Linked DNA regions of Homo sapiens. The protein of the gene in region 2 binds, or shares a complex with, the protein of the main gene of each other region. Each region holds a gene or a part of one and is shown on either strand. Other genes may lie near its edges.

Evidence for each region.
Region 1: PIGA (region 2) and PIGP share a complex: the UniProt entries of both Homo sapiens proteins name them as parts of the glycosylphosphatidylinositol-N-acetylglucosaminyltransferase (GPI-GnT) complex.

Annotation. Positions count from the first base shown.
Region 1 is NC_000021.9:37,069,886-37,077,683, reverse strand, and holds the start of PIGP (phosphatidylinositol N-acetylglucosaminyltransferase subunit P), read left to right. Parts: upstream 1-4,612; 5' UTR 4,613-4,684; exon of another isoform or gene 4,685-4,836; intron 4,837-4,880; exon of another isoform or gene 4,881-5,096; coding exon of another isoform or gene 5,097-5,168; coding exon 5,169-5,250; intron 5,251-5,373; exon of another isoform or gene 5,374-5,535; coding exon of another isoform or gene 5,536-5,539; intron 5,540-7,798. Other genes in the region: E3 ubiquitin-protein ligase TTC3, read right to left, coding at 4,201-4,255. UniProt on the Homo sapiens protein: Part of the glycosylphosphatidylinositol-N-acetylglucosaminyltransferase (GPI-GnT) complex that catalyzes the transfer of N-acetylglucosamine from UDP-N-acetylglucosamine to phosphatidylinositol and participates in the first step of GPI biosynthesis.
Region 2 is NC_000023.11:15,332,388-15,340,177, forward strand, and holds the start of PIGA (phosphatidylinositol N-acetylglucosaminyltransferase subunit A), read right to left. Parts: upstream 3,137-7,790; 5' UTR 3,127-3,136; coding exon of another isoform or gene 3,114-3,126; intron 1-3,113. UniProt on the Homo sapiens protein: Catalytic subunit of the glycosylphosphatidylinositol-N-acetylglucosaminyltransferase (GPI-GnT) complex that catalyzes the transfer of N-acetylglucosamine from UDP-N-acetylglucosamine to phosphatidylinositol and participates in the first step of GPI biosynthesis.

The DNA.
Region 1 (7,798 bases), on a different chromosome or scaffold from region 2:
TAATAACAAAAAATGCAAATTAAAACCACAATGATGCATCATTTCATACCCATTCCATTGGCAAATATTAAGTCTGACAATAACAAGTGTTGGAGAGGTTGTAGATCAACTGTAACTCTTACACACTGTTGATCAAAGTATATAAACAGACAAAACTGCTGGCCAAAGTACAAACTGATACAACCCCTTCAGAAAGTAATCTGACATTATTTTGTAAAGCTGATCATTCATACCCCTTGATCTAGCAATCCCATTTCTAGCAAACAGCTTACTATAGTGATACGGCAGTATTTCTTTCTCTTTTCTTTTTCTTTTGCTGCTGAACAAATTAACATGGTGGTATTTCAACCTTTTTTTTTTGCTCGCAAACCACCAAAAGTGCTTTTTAAAATTGCATACCCTTTACCCATTAAGATGACATTTAAAAAATATCACCATAAGATTAAATAATTGCAAAGGGTGAATTTCTAGAACATCACAGTAACATTTTAAAGTAAAACTGATTATCTCATTCTTTTAAATGTATAATTATTACCAGCATATGGTTGGCCAAAAAATATACCCTGATAACATAAAAAAAAAAGCAACTTTATTGGAAATATCTCTCTTAAGGAAATGGATGGGGAAGTGCCAGGATTAAAAGAGGCTTTCCCTAACACTATAGTGGTATTTTAAATTATCCCTTTGTAGGCCAGGCGCGGTGGCCTGTAATCCCAGCACTTTGGGAGGCCGAGTCGGGCAGATCACCTGAGGTCAGGAGTTCAAGACGTGCCTAGCCAACATGGTGAAATCCCGTCTCTACTAAAAATACAAAATTAGCCGGGTGTGGTGGTGCGCGCCTGTAATCCCAGCTACTCAGAGGCTGAGGCAAGAGAATCACTTGAACTTGGGAGGCAGAGGTTGCAGTGAGCCGAGATCGTGCCATTGCACTCCAGCCTGGGCAAAAAGAGCAAAACTTCACTCAAAAAAAAAAAAAAAAAAAAAAAAAATCCCTTTGTTTTCCCCAAGGGAGTTTTCCCCCTTTGGGCAATGCCATAGTAAGATTCCACAAGAACCTGTGGTTTGCCTGTCTTATGTAAAGTGCAATGTTAGAAACACAAGGTAAGAAAGTAGCACTAGCAGGAGGCCTCAGGCATTACCATTTTTAGGAAAGAGTACCTATGGAATGTAATGATCTAGAAACTGATTCATTAACATCATTTGTACCCACACATTCCTTAGCAAATCTTCATTACTCCTCTGGGGCTCATATACCCCAGTGTGAAAATTAGAAAAATTCTTACAACTGTGAACCAAAAAGTATATAACTTCATAACAGCAAAACCTAGAAACAACCAAAATGCCCATTAACAGAAGAATGCATACACTGTGTTATATTCACACTTGGAATATTACACAGCAGTGAAAATTAATGACTTACATCTATACCCAATATTAGTAACTCAGAAACATAACATCAAGTGAAATAAGCAAGTCCCAGGAAACTATACCCAATATGATTTTTTCCACTCAAAAACAACAGAAACCATACAATACATTTTTGAGGGATGTATACATATCTGATAAAATTATTTTTAAAAACAAGGCATAATATACACAATTCAGGATGGTAGTCACCTCTGGAAGTAAGCACATTCAATACTGGTCATTTTGATTATTGGATTGAGTGGTGAATTCATAGGTGTTCATTTTATTGTTCTGCTATACAGCTTGCATATGTTTTACATATATTTTGAATTTATCAAATACTACAATAAAATGGAGAGGAAAAGAAAAATTTTTTAAACATTCATCATAAGAAAAAAAATACTTTTAATTAAATCACCTCACCTGCCACTAAAGAGGTACATATTTAACATATCATGGAAATTCTATCTATACATCAATCATAGGATCTGACATACATTAGGTATACAACAAATGTTCATTGGAATTAATCTTATGAGAACCAAAGGAGATAAAGACTAAGCCAATTAGCTATAAGAGATAAATCCATAGGCTGACACAGGGCTACAAGAGAAGCCAAGGTGGCTACAAGCAAATTTAGCAGCAACCAAAAGTCATAAGGAAGCTGGTCAGTAAAGAGATGGCAAAAATGTAAAGTCTCATAACATAAAGTGTTAGCAGGGTTGTGAGGAAATTGTGTTCTCACTCAACACCAGTGACAGTGAAAATTGGTACAACCACTTCGAGAGCTTCTGTGATACTTGGTTAAATTGAAGACGCACATAGCCTACAATCCGGCAAATCTACTACTTAGGTGTACTTCCTACAGAAACTTCCAAATGTGTGCACAAGCAGACAAGTACAAAGATATTTATTGCAGGACTGTTTTTAAGAGTCAAAAACTGAAACAAGTTCAAAGTCTATCAACAGGGGAATGTATAAATAAATATGGTATATTCATACAACGCAATTCTATACCAGCAATTAAAATGAATGAACCAAAGATAACACAATCATTCAATTTGTTCATATATAAACCTCAAAATATGATGCTGAGCAAAAAAAAAAAAAGCAAGTTGCAAAAAGGCATGTATATTTTAATGCCATTAAAGTTTAAAAACAAACAATAATATATATTGTGTATGGATTCACCTTGATCAAAGTATAAAATATGCAAAGTAAAGATATACACAAACCTCAACGCAGTGGCTATCTCTAGAAAAGGAGGGGAAGGAACTGAGAGCAATTTTATTTCTTTAAAAAAAAAGAGTATCTGAAGTAAATTTGGCAAAAGATTAAATAATCACGTCTGTAAAATCTGAATCATGGATTGGTTAGCTCCCCCTCTGTATTTGATATCTGAAATATTCCAAAAATTAAAAGAAAAAAAGGAAAATTAGACAATAAGAAAATTGGGCAGAACAAAGACACCAAAACGCAGCCCTTGAGCGCAGAGCACGAAACCTTGAGCAATCGGAGCAGTAGCTGGGTCTCTAAGGGGTTTGAAGTTTCTTACCCTAGGTATCCTTATACTATATCCCATTTTCCTTAGGATAAATCGCAAATTTCTTGCAACAAAAAATGTCCTAACTAGAGTCGTAGTTATAAGGAAAAGGCTCTCTCCGGAGGAGTAAAATCTGTAAAATTTCTACCTTGTTTCCCTCGCCAGGATCTTGGGCAAAATGGAAAGAGATTTAGGTGAATGCCATAAAATACTCTATAAACCATTAAATATCATCAAGAACGCCTAAGGACCGCATCGCCCAGTAGGAGAGTGCATATATTTTGAAAGGTCTCTGCAACTGAGGGGGTTTTGGCGTCCAGGGCGCCACTGGAAAAGGCACGGCGCACTGGTACCAGCCCAAATTCACCTACGTCTCGGCTTCATTTTTTATCTTTGATCCCCCTATTCTGTCTCCTGAACAGGCTGGCTGAAGAGGCCACACTGGCAGCGTCAACACTGCGGAGCAGCTGGCCAGACTCGATCCTGTCCACCCCCCTTCCCATTAGCGTCTGTGGGAGAGAATGCTCAGAAAGAGGCGCGGGGGCGAGGGGAGCGGCGAGGTTACCCCCCTCCTGGGTCCGTTCCGTGGGGACAGGCCCTGGACTGGACTGCCAGTTCACACGAAAACAGGTGGCAACAGAGTCGTGACACGCACACACAGCAAGGGGTGTGCACGAACGTTCACGCTCACCAACGAAACCTGCACACAAGAGATACCCACTCGACAGAATTAAATCCGCACACAAGAGATCACGCACTCAACAGGACCCATGCGCAGACACTCTGCGTCACTCGGAGACACGCAAGGACGCACACTTGCGCGAGCAAGGCTCTAGGCGGGGGTCGCAATTGCAGAAGGCGCGGCCACGCGCGCTAGGGGACGCGCAGCCCACAGACAGGGGCAGTAACACAAAGGGGGGCCACCTGCAAGGCCGAGAGCGCCCACGCAGCCGCCAGGGAGCGCGGACACCGACACAAAAGGGGCGACGAGGCGACACGCGAGCGCCTCCACCCAGCGGAGGTGTCAGCCACGCACCGGCCGAGGCACGGGCAGCGGGGGGTTGCGCACAAAGGGACTACTCACACCCTCGCACCGGCATCCCAGGGCCTCGCTCGCGAAGGGGCACCAGACCAAGGGGGCAAACCCACTGGGGTAGGCAATGGCGGCCACACCCCCTCATCGCGCGGGACCCAACCCATGCAGACACAGTAGGCACCTCAGCGAGGGACGCGAGGAGACGCGCACACACCCACACTCACCACACACCCACGGAGGGGGTGTGGAAGGCCCCGCTCCCCCGGCATCTCGGCTGCAGCGGGACAAGGTGACACATCCGGGAGCCCGGCAGCGCGCCGGGTGTGCACTCACCCGGGCCCGCCGCCCGCGAGCCTCGGACGCGGGCAGCAGCAGCAGCAGCCGCCGCCGCCGCCGCCGCCACCTCCGGCCCTCCACGTCAGCCGACGGCGGGAGGGAGCGGGTGGCGGCGTTGAAGCGAGGTGCGTCACGTGGGCTGGCAGCGCGCGTGCGCAGTCGCACCCCACCGCCCCCTCCTTCGCCGTCGCGAGCCGCGGGATCACGCCCGCCCCCGCGCTCGCTGGCTCCCACCCGGGGAGGGTCGTTGTGCGCCTGCGCCAGGGTGGGGGTTGCCGTCGCGCCTAGGCCTTTCCCTCAGGTTTTCCTCTTCCCCACTGCGGCTCCCCAGTCGGCGCTTGCGCGGAGAACTCAGCGCTGAGGTGGCCGAGGTGTCGGGAGGGGCCTGGGTGGGCGTATGAAGGACCCGAGGTCGAGGGCCCCCCCATACCCCGCCTCGAATGAGAAATAGAAGTCTCCACGAATGGGCAGGGCCCGGGGCCTGGGCGCCGCGACCTAGTAGGCCCGCATGCTGGTGGGCGCCGCGCGAGCCTTGTTCCCTGCCCTCCCCTCCCACAGGGAGGCCACGCTTGCAGAGCTGGAGCGCGCGTCTATCGCCCCAGAACCCCCCTCCCTGCCCTATCCTCCGCCACCCCTTCTGTTGCGGGGCGCGCGCCAGCCTGGGTGTCTGTATGCGCTCGAGGCGGGGGCGCGGGTTGCGGACGGAGGCGCGGGAGGCGGTTCTGCGCGGCGGGGGCCGTACCCGCGGCGGAGCGAGGAGGCGAGAATGGATCAATGGTGCCACGGAGCACATCGCTGACGCTGATTGTGTTCCTTTTCCACAGATTGTCTAAAGCCCCAGGAAAAATGGTGGAAAATTCACCGTCGCCATTGCCAGAAAGAGCGATTTATGGCTTTGTTCTTTTCTTAAGCTCCCAATTTGGCTTCAGTAAGTACTTTCCTGATGGATGGCCAGGGGCTTTTTCTGGCGTTCAGTGACAAGGGAAGAATACATTGGTTAGACTGTGCACACATGAACTGTTGATTCTTTCTCCCTATGTCTCTTTTTAAGAAAATCTGAAGGGATCTCGTGTTTGCTGAGTGTTCCGTGTGCCAGCACTAGCCTAGGAGGTTTTAGTCTCTACAAATATTTATACAGCACCAGACGCGATGGCAAAGTGGATAAAGCCTGGTCCCTGCCCTTAAGGAGGTCGTGGTCTTGTGGAGGAGACAGATGGGTAAATCTACAGTTAATGCTCAGTGTGATGAGTGTCAGGGAGCACGGTGGAGAGACATTGAAACCAGACTGGAAAGTCAAGGCTTTCTACAGAGGCCTTTCCCCCTGGCACTGATGCTGATTAGGAAAGAGTAAGAGGGAGGGAAGAAGTGGAAAGGCCTTGAATGAGGGCGTGAGAGGGTTTGGACCCGAGGAGCTTGTGATGTCACCAGTGTGCCCTGCGGGATCTGGGGAACAGGAGAAGTAGGCCAGAGAAGTCGGGTTGAAAGGTGTGTCGTTTGCGTCCTGGATCTCCCTTAATTTAACCCCATAACATTCCATTTTACAGATAAGGAGACTGATGCTCACTAAGACACTAATATGCCCACTCACACAGCAAGTCCCAAGTCTCTCCCCAAAATGATTTGAGAATTTTGAGGCACACAAAAGGGAGAAAATTGAGTGCCCGTGATCCAACGTTCTGCAACTGTTTGGAAACCAGGAAAGTGGAGGAGTGGTAGTACTTCTGAACCCTAACTAAAATATATCAGCCTGCACCATCAGCACAGCTTGCAGATGAATGTAATGGCCAGGCTATTAAAACTGAAGTGAAGTGAAGAAGTTACAACTGAGTTCGAATTCTGACTCCTCCACAGATTAGCCATGTGAGCTGGGACCCTCAGCAAATTTTTTGAGCCTCAGGTTCCTTATCTGTAAAAGGGTAGTGATAATGATGGTTATTAAATGCTTATGACGCATGAAACAGTTCTATGGGGTAGGTTCTGTTATTACTGTCCTTTAAAGATGAGCATCCTGTGGTTTCAGTAACTTGCTCAAGATTGCAAAGCTACTAAATAAAAGCCTTCTAAATTTGAACCCAAATACACTGGCTGACTTCACTCTGCTGCCTCTTCTGACTGTTGTGAGGATTAACGGGGGTAATTTATGTAAAGCACGTAAAATAATGCCTAGGAACAGTTAGGGACTTAATAAGTGTTAGCTACTGATGTTATTGTTAGCACTTTTGTAAATCCTTGTTCAAAGAGTATGTCAAGGATTAGAAGCTATATGAATAAATAAAAGCAATCACTTTAAGGCTTAAATTCTGGCCGGCCTGGTGGCTCACGCCTGTAATCCCGGCACTTTGGGTGGCCGAGGCAGGCAGATCATCTGAGGTCGGGAGTTTGAGACCAGCCAGACCAACATGGAAAAACCCTGTCTCTACTAAAAATACAAAATTAGCCGGGATGGTGGCGCATGCCTGTAACTCCAGCTACTCGGGAGGCTGAGGCAGGAGAATCGCTTGAACCCGGGAGGCGGAGGTTGCCGTGAGCTGAGATTGCACTTTTGCACTCCAGCCTGGGCAACGAGCGAAACTGTCTCAAAACAAAATTAAATTCCATCATACCCACAACCAAAAAGTAATTCAAGTATTTATTGGTGCTTACCATGTGCCAGGCACTGTTACAGGCCAGGAAGGACCAAAACAGCCAAAAATGCCCTGCTTTGAGTCTTCATTCTCATGCCGGGGGGAGATAGTCAATGGGCAAGTTAAATAAGAAAAACGTATATAGTATCAGGTGATAACGTACTATGGGGAGAAATTAAGCAAAGGGAAGGAGGATACGAAGTGGAAGGAGGGCCTTCTAATGTGCTTCTATGTCATCTTTTATTACTCATTCGTGAGCACTTGTAACAATGTAGTGAAAATACCAATTTTCTCTATTCACCACTAGATTTTAAGTTTAGGGAGGGCAGAAGCCATCTCTTTTGGATTCAATATTGTGTCTCACACACCTGACATACAGAATTCTGTAATACATATTTGTTAAGAAAAGAATGCATCATCACTGATGTAGTAGGTAGTTAAAATTTATCTTTGCCGCTTACCTTGGGTAGGTGATGTATCCTTTCTAAGCTTCCATTTCCTCATCATTTAAAATTGCATACTTGCCTTGGAGGATTGTCTTGGAGGATTATCTTAATGCATACAGAATGCTTGGAACTGTGCTTAACCCACAGTGAGTGCTCAGAACTTAGCCATTGTTGTTATCGTGGGATAACAGTAAAGAGTGCCGAGATTTCGGATTGAGGGAAATAACATTGTACTCTGGGAGATAGGGCAGAAGCTCAGTATGTGGTGGATGAGAACTAGGGTAGGTAAATTTCCCTTTGAGCAATTAAATGTCTATAATTACTTCAACCTTGTGGGGATGAAGTATTGAACACTTACTGTACCTAAAGCAAACTGCTAGGTAATAAGGATTACAACAATTGCTAA
Region 2 (7,790 bases):
GCCACTATACATCAGCTACTACATGCTAAGACTCTTCTATATCTTATTGCAGCCTCACCAAAACTCCATGAGTTATCAACTCCATCTTATAAATGGAAAGTCTAAAGCTTAAAGGGGTTAAGAAATTTGTTCAGTTATTCAGTGCTTAGAGGTAACACAATGTAGCAGTCTGATTCATTAGCGGTCATGTCTTCTGGTATTTATGCCCTTCTATAGTATAGTCCCTTCCCGTTGCATTTGGACCTGGTTTAGCCCATAGAAGGTAGTGAAAGTGATGTGCAAATTTTTGGCCTCGGCCTAAAAAAGGTGTGGTGATTTCCAAGGTGTGGTGGTTTTCACTTGTGCACTCTTAGATATCCTAAGCCAAAGTGTAAGGAATCCATCTACTGTGCTAGAGGGACAAGGGAAGAGATAATATGGAGAAGGAAGAGCTCTGAGACTACATGGAAAGAGCCAGAGGCCCAGCCATCCAGCCAACTTACCAGCTAAATGCAGCCTCCTAGTGACCACTGGCAAGACCAAGAGAACCACCCAGCTGAGCCTAGCTCACTGCAGTATCATGAAACATACCAAAATGGCTATTGTTTTACATCGTCTTGGGGTGGTTTGGTAAAAAATAACAGACAACTAAAACAGGCCAGGATCCAAACTCGGTTATACTGGTCCACTGCCTGTTTTTGTAAAGTTTTATAGGCTCATAGGTGTGCCCATTCATTTATGTGAATGGCTACTTTTGTGCTACAAGAGCAGAGTAGCTACAACAGAGACCATATGACCCACAGAGCTGAAAATATTTACCATCTGGTCCTCTACTAAAGTTTGCCAACCCCTGCTCTATAGCTTAGCCACTGATTCAATTACTCTCAAAGTTTTGCTAGCATTACCTTTGTGGTTTACACTAAAACACACCCGGAGCTCGAACTATCTTTTTGAGAGCACCTTTTTCAAATGTCACCAGAGCACATGCTGCACACATGTTCTCCTTCCTTATTCAAAGAGGGTGATTATTTAGGCCGGGTGCGGTGGCTCACGCCTGTAATCCTAGCACTTTGGGAGGCTGAGGTGGGTGGATCACCTGAGGTCAGGAGTTCAAGACCAGCCTGGCCAACATGAAGAAACCTCATCTCTATTAAAAATACAAAAATTAGCTGGGCGTGGTGGTGCCTGCCTGTGGTCCTAGCTACTCGGGAGGCTGAGGCAGGAGAACCGCTTGAACCCGGGAGTCCGAAGTTGCAGTGAGCCGAGATCGCGCCGCTGCACTCCAGCCAGGGTGACACAGCGAGACTCCATCTCAAAAAAACAAAACAAAACAAAAACAAAAAACAGAAACACAAAAACCAAAGAGGGTGATTATGTAACTGCTCCCTTCACTTTTTAAACTTTTCTATCAGTTATGCAGGCCTTTCAAACTCAATGAGTGTCCCTCCCTTCAGTGCGGTGTCTAAAGATAAAGGCTAAACTAGAGATGGGCTGTATCTGGGACCATTTTCTCAATTTAAAGTGCGAAATGTTTATCTCAGGGGTCCCCTAAAGCTTTATTAATGTGAAATGCCCACTCAATATTTAGTACTACTGTACATTCTTAGACACTTAAAGCTAAAAAGAATCTTGGATATCTAGTCAAAATCTTCCTCAGCTTTACAAATGAGATTTCCAAGGCTCCAGAAAACAAACAACTATACAATGAGAAGCCATCCTAAAGCTCTGAGTTTCCGGTTTCACCTGCAAACTCAGAAAATGCCAATTAACTGTATGTGCAAAGGCTTAACTGTCTAGTCTCTCCAACAAATTCATCTACTTTTTTTTTTTTTTTTTTTTTTTGAGACGGAGTCTCACTCTGTTGCCCAGGCTAGTGTGCAGTGGAGCGATCTCGTCTCACTGCAGCCTCTGCCTCCCGAGTTCAAGCGATTCTCCCACTTCAGCCTCCTGAATAGCTGGAATTACAGGCGCACACCACAAGCCCAGCTAATTTTTGTATTTTTAGTAGAGACGGGGTTTCATCATGTTGGCCAGGCTGGTCTCGAACCCCTGACCTCAGGTGATCCACCAGCCTCGGCCTCCCAAAGTGCTGGGATTACAGGTGTGAGCCACCGTGCCCGGCCTCATCTACATTTTAAATATACTCTCGGAAAGACCCCAGAAGTGTTTGTTGACTGAGTTTACTAATTAAGATTCAATATTACCAAATATTGAAATTCCCCAAGTTTGTACTTTTAGGTGGCTTAACTAACATTTTCTTACTGTGGTCACCTAAACCCGAACTTCCAGTTCTACCAGTTTTAAAAGATGAACGATAGCAAAAACAGTGAGTAATGAACCAAATGATATCATTTAAAATGTTGTCATTAGCCTGCAACGTTCTGTGAGGAGTCTGCCCACTTCCGCCAGGTTTTCAGTCCAAACATCTTTGACATAAAAGTTCATTATGCTGCACAATCGCAGAATCTTAGCTCTTAAAGCCGAAATGAGGCTTGGAGCTCTAGTGAATACCTCTCTCGTTTTACAAATGAGAACCCAGACAAGTTGAGTGATTTGTCCAAGGTTCCCACCCAGCCACTTAAAGTGGCAAAGACATTACCGTAAAATTCTCGACCACGACCAACGAGCCCTGGGCAATCATTAGCAGTAGAGGTTCCTGAAGAACCTTAGGGAGACCTGGCAGGAGTTGTGGGTCAAGAGAATGGTACTTCCACCGACAATTCCTGGGCACTGTCTGAGCTTCATTCCCTGATTCCCTGAGAGGTCGCTGGGGAAACGCTCGGGCCAAGGAGGGGATACCCCTGCTCAGACAGCGACCCCGCTGGGTTCATGGCGGGGATGGCCAGGCCCAAAGAGAGAAAGAAAACAACCAAAGAGTGGACGTTGGTCTCAGGCCCGGGGTTCCGGAGACCCCAGTCCCTCGACCCACCCGCCTGAGCCAAGGAACCCAGCGCGTCCGCCCTAAACGCACCCTCAGCCCCAACCTACTCTGGAGACCCTCCGACCCAACTTCCGGGCTTCGAACCGGGTCGGTTTCACCCCCTCCACCACCCGCCACGATCCCACGCGCGCAGAACAGCCCCATCCGAAAGCGGCCCAGAGCGCTGGAGAGGGGCGGCGCGACGCGCACTCACCGGTGAGTTCCATGGCCGCCAGTGTCCGGACCTCCCGCGGCTGCAGCCGGAGTCCCTCCCTGCTGTTCCGCAGCACCAATCTAGGGCGTCCGCGCCCAAGGGCCGCGCCCCCGAGGCAGCCAATCACAAAGAGGCGCTGAGGTCACGTCCGAGAGAGACGCTCTGTCGTCCCCACCCTTAAGCGCGAGATGTAACGTCAGCGCGCGCCTGCGCCCGTCTCCTAGAAGCGGCCGACGGTAGGGTGGGTGCTCACCCTGGTTTCCTGGTTACAGCGTCTCTATTCCGGACGCCAGTTCTCTGCGCGCTTGCTTCTGATTGGAGAGACTTTTTGTTTGTAATCAGCTGTGCCACGGCAAAACCGTGCCGGTTCTTACCGCTCTGGGACGTTTGCCAGATAAATAAATAAAAATACACAAAAAGTCAAAACAGATGAAACTATGAAGTTTTAATTTCAGATAAAGCACAAATGATGTTTAATACAAGCATGTACCAAATATTGGGGACTTCACTACACATTCGTTTTTTATCGGACATGTAAATTTAACTAGACATCCTGTTATTTATATGGCAATTCTACACTCTGAGGGAAACATACGAGGTCTGATCTGAAATATCAACTCCCACTCGACTGGTTCAACTAGTTACGATGGTGCTTGACTAGGAAGCTAAAGAATCAGTGAGAGTGGTATGACGGTCATCCATGCGTCACAGCTGGTACTTGGAATCCCCCATCCCTGCCATACGTGCGTTTTCGAGAAGAAATTCCTTTCTGAGTACCATCACAGCCACCGTTACTGGCACCCATTTTATTAAGCCTAGTGTAAGCCTATTCATCCCTGAAAATGTCTGCTCCTTTCTGATGCTTTCCCCAAGCCTCCAGAGAATGAAATACTCTCACTTTTTAATTTTAATAGTACTTTGGCCACATGCTGGCCAAAGTATAACATTTATCAGATGATATTCAAGTTGTTTGCCTGATTGCATTCTCCCTCCTCACCCTGATCCTTGATTACTTGTCTCTTGAGATCTCACATGGACTTCTTTCTGAAAACGGAAATTGTATTTGCTTGTTAAATGTCTGCCTTCCCTGCCAGATAGTAAACTGAGGCAGGATCTGTTCTTGGTAATGGATGTTGAGGAAGTTTTAGTTTAATACATGAATTTCTTTACCCAATGTCAGCACACTCCCTGACACATATTAGATGCTCACAATAAAATGTATTGACAGTATTTCGTGGAGTGTACCTTATACAAATTACAGTGCAATAACATCATTGAAAGAGCATTTTAGTTGTGAGATTTGAAGCGAATTAATGAGTTGATGAGTAAGACTAGAGTAGCAATCGATACTTTGCCCTGTGTTAATATTGATGAAGCATCGGAGAATTACAGTGATGAAGACTCAAGGACACTTAATTAAGCTTTATAATTTGTAGTTGGTTTCACAGATAACAGCGACATTACCAGATAGGTACAGCATTTGGCCTCCTTTCCATTTTTGTAATAGGTTTTAAGACAAAGAGTGGGGGTAGAAATCCTGGAAGGTATAAATGAGGGTTAAGCCTCACTTATTGAGCCCCTGGTTTGCCCCTGCCATAGTTCTGATCACAGTACACGTTTGAAATTCCACCATGAATCTTTTTTCAAAATATAACAAATATTTCTTATTTTTATCATCAAACATTTACTGGATGTCTGCTCTGTAAAAGGCCTTGTGGGGAATACAAGAAATATTAAGCATAGTCCCTGTGTTTCAACAGCTTTTTATTTTTTCTAGCTTTTCCTGTACATGTTATCAATAGTCAAAAGAAATCCACCTTTCTTAAAAGGTTCTTTGTGTTTCAAATATAGAATAGGCTGACCTTTATAAATAGATATTAATAGAGGCACACTGTTGCTGAGTCTCTGTGGGGGAGGGCGTTGAGGAGCCTGCAGGCTGTTCCAACAAAGTCTGAAAACATTGAACATTTATTTAAAGCTCCAGCTTCTGTCCTAGGCACTGAGCATTAAAAGATAAATAAATCATGATTCCGACTCCCAAGGGTTCATAATCTCACCTGGGTACATGACTTCATTTATAGTCAGTTAAGTAAAGGTCTCCATTTAAGGCTATATTCTAAAAAGTCAAAAGAAATTTGTAGTAGCAAGATTAAGATATAAATCTGGAGATGATTCTAATTATGGTGTCCTGCCTTAATGTATGGTCTCAAGGTATGTCTTGAGAGAATTTTCTCCGGAACCACTAAAATTAGACTAAGATACTTACATGCATTATATTCTGATTGCACTTAATAAAATATGAGGGCAATTGGTACCAGTTTTAGTATTAAACGACCTGAGATGATGAAGATGTAAAATAAATGTAGATATCATCTTCCCTTGAAATTCAGTTTTTGCAACTTCATATGTAAATTAGCTCTTTGGGATAATCTTGGAGTGCGAAGGCAACAAACATGTCTTGAGAGCCTACTATCTGTGTACAAAGCACGATGCAGAGAAAACCTGGCATGAGCTTTACTTGCAAGGAAACAATACAGAGTTAAGGCATATGTAAATATCTACGATAAAAAGCAGGAAGTGATAAATGCCATAAGAGAAATATAAGAAAAATATTGGGAGTTCAAAGGGGAAGAGTATTTCTAGCTGCCAGCATTTAGCTAGAAGAATAAGTAGATGGTGTCATGCAACTCTTGGGAACAGGGTAATTCCAAGAACAACATGAATGAGGTACAGACAGGTGCTGTCCAGCAAACACTGCTTTGTAATCACAAAGGAAAAGAGAAGGGAAAGTGGGCAGACAGAAGAAGAGTGGCATTATCAATGAAGGTTAGAGCAAACTGGTAGAAGATATTACTAAGGAAAATGGGCTTGATGTTGAGGCGGACTTCCAGCCAAGATCACATTTTCAATTAGTATTTTGAGACTCCTAACTCCTGATTCTGCTTCAAATATAACAATAAGTGATACAATATAAATGAGAAAATTTAATGTTTTACCTGTGATTTAAACAAGAAGATAAACATTTCCGTGTATCAGAAACAGAACCAATACGCAAAATGGTGATCAGGAACAAAGCCACCTAGGTCCTGGATTCTGTATGTGGCAGCAGGAAGATGTGAACCAGGGTTCAGCCCCTGTAGAATAATAGACTAACAGGGTTCCATGTGTGGCTTGATACAGGAACCAGTTTTGTGAGAGACTGTTACAACGGTGACCTTCAATAAACCAGTATTCCATATTGGCAGCCTTGTCTAATCCTCTCCCACATTGGCTCTGGGTTTGAGCATGTGACTGGAATGGCCAAATGAGATGCCACAGATGCTTAATAAGTGTTTATTTACTGGGATGCATCTTGTTGGAACCTTTCCTCTTGAAAGCCAATGACCATGCTGTGAAGCTCAGACAAGATATTGGATAATGGCAAGCCACATGGAGAGAAGCCCTGAAGAATGAGAGGTCATCTTGGGCATTCCAGCAGTAAGTGAGTTCCCAATTTAATATAACCACTGGAGTGACTTCAGCCTATACTATGTGGAAAGAACCACTTAGCTGATCCTAACTAACCCACAGAATTATGAGAAATAATAAATCGTTATTGTCTCAAAACATTAAGTTTTTGGGTGATTTGTTACATAGCAATAGATAACCAAGCCTTATTGCTTAACCATCTCCCCTACTTGTGAATAGACATTGAAAGAATTTTTTGCCAACAGTCTGAGGATATAACTTTGCTAACAGAACTGAGCCAAGCAACATAATTTGCAATTTTCCACTATCACTGCTAGTCTGGGGGATATAAGCACACACACACACACACACACACACACACACACATACACACACACACACACGGGGAGAGGAGAGAGTGAGAGTGAGAGCGAGAGAGAGAGAGCTCTCAAGATTGGTTTATAAACCAAAATTCAAAAACAATGGAAGATATATAATATTAAGAAAGACAACACACAAATGTAACAATGGAAGAAGAATTCACTCTAGACGCAATTCAAATAATTTTTGAAATGACATTTTTAAAAGAATAAGAATTTGGAAATAAAAACATGCAGAAATTAAACAAACACCAGTGGATATAAAAGAATCAATTAGATACCTTGAACATGAAGATGTTACTAGCATTTTTAAAACTCATATTGATAAGCTTTAGGCTACACACTGTTGAAACAAAGGTTAGTGTGGTGGAAAAGAGTAACTAAGGCAGTTACTTCTTTTTGATGCAGAATATGAGATGAAATGTCAAACCACAATCAAAGCTTTGTCCTAGGAAAATTGTTCCAAGAACTGGAGAAAAGGAAGGTGAAAGAGTGGCACAGCTGGAGAAGAGACCAGTTAGGCTGTTCCAGTAGTCCAGAAGCCTCCTTGCAATTTAAAGTAGGGGCTGCAGATCAGCAACAGCAACTGGGAGCTGGTCAGAAGTGCAGACTCTCAGATTCTCCAGACCTGCTAAATCTGAATCTGCAATTTAACAAGATCTGGAATGATAGTATGCACATTATAGCTTAAGAAACTAGCTCTAGACTAGAGGCAATGAGGACCTGATGTTTTCTCGTGGCAATAAAAAAAAAGAGAGAGACAAGGAAAATCACAGGATATTGGGATTTGTTTGAGTGATGTCTTCCTTTTCGTTTTAGCACCCTTTTTTGAAGACCGTCCTCCAGTAGC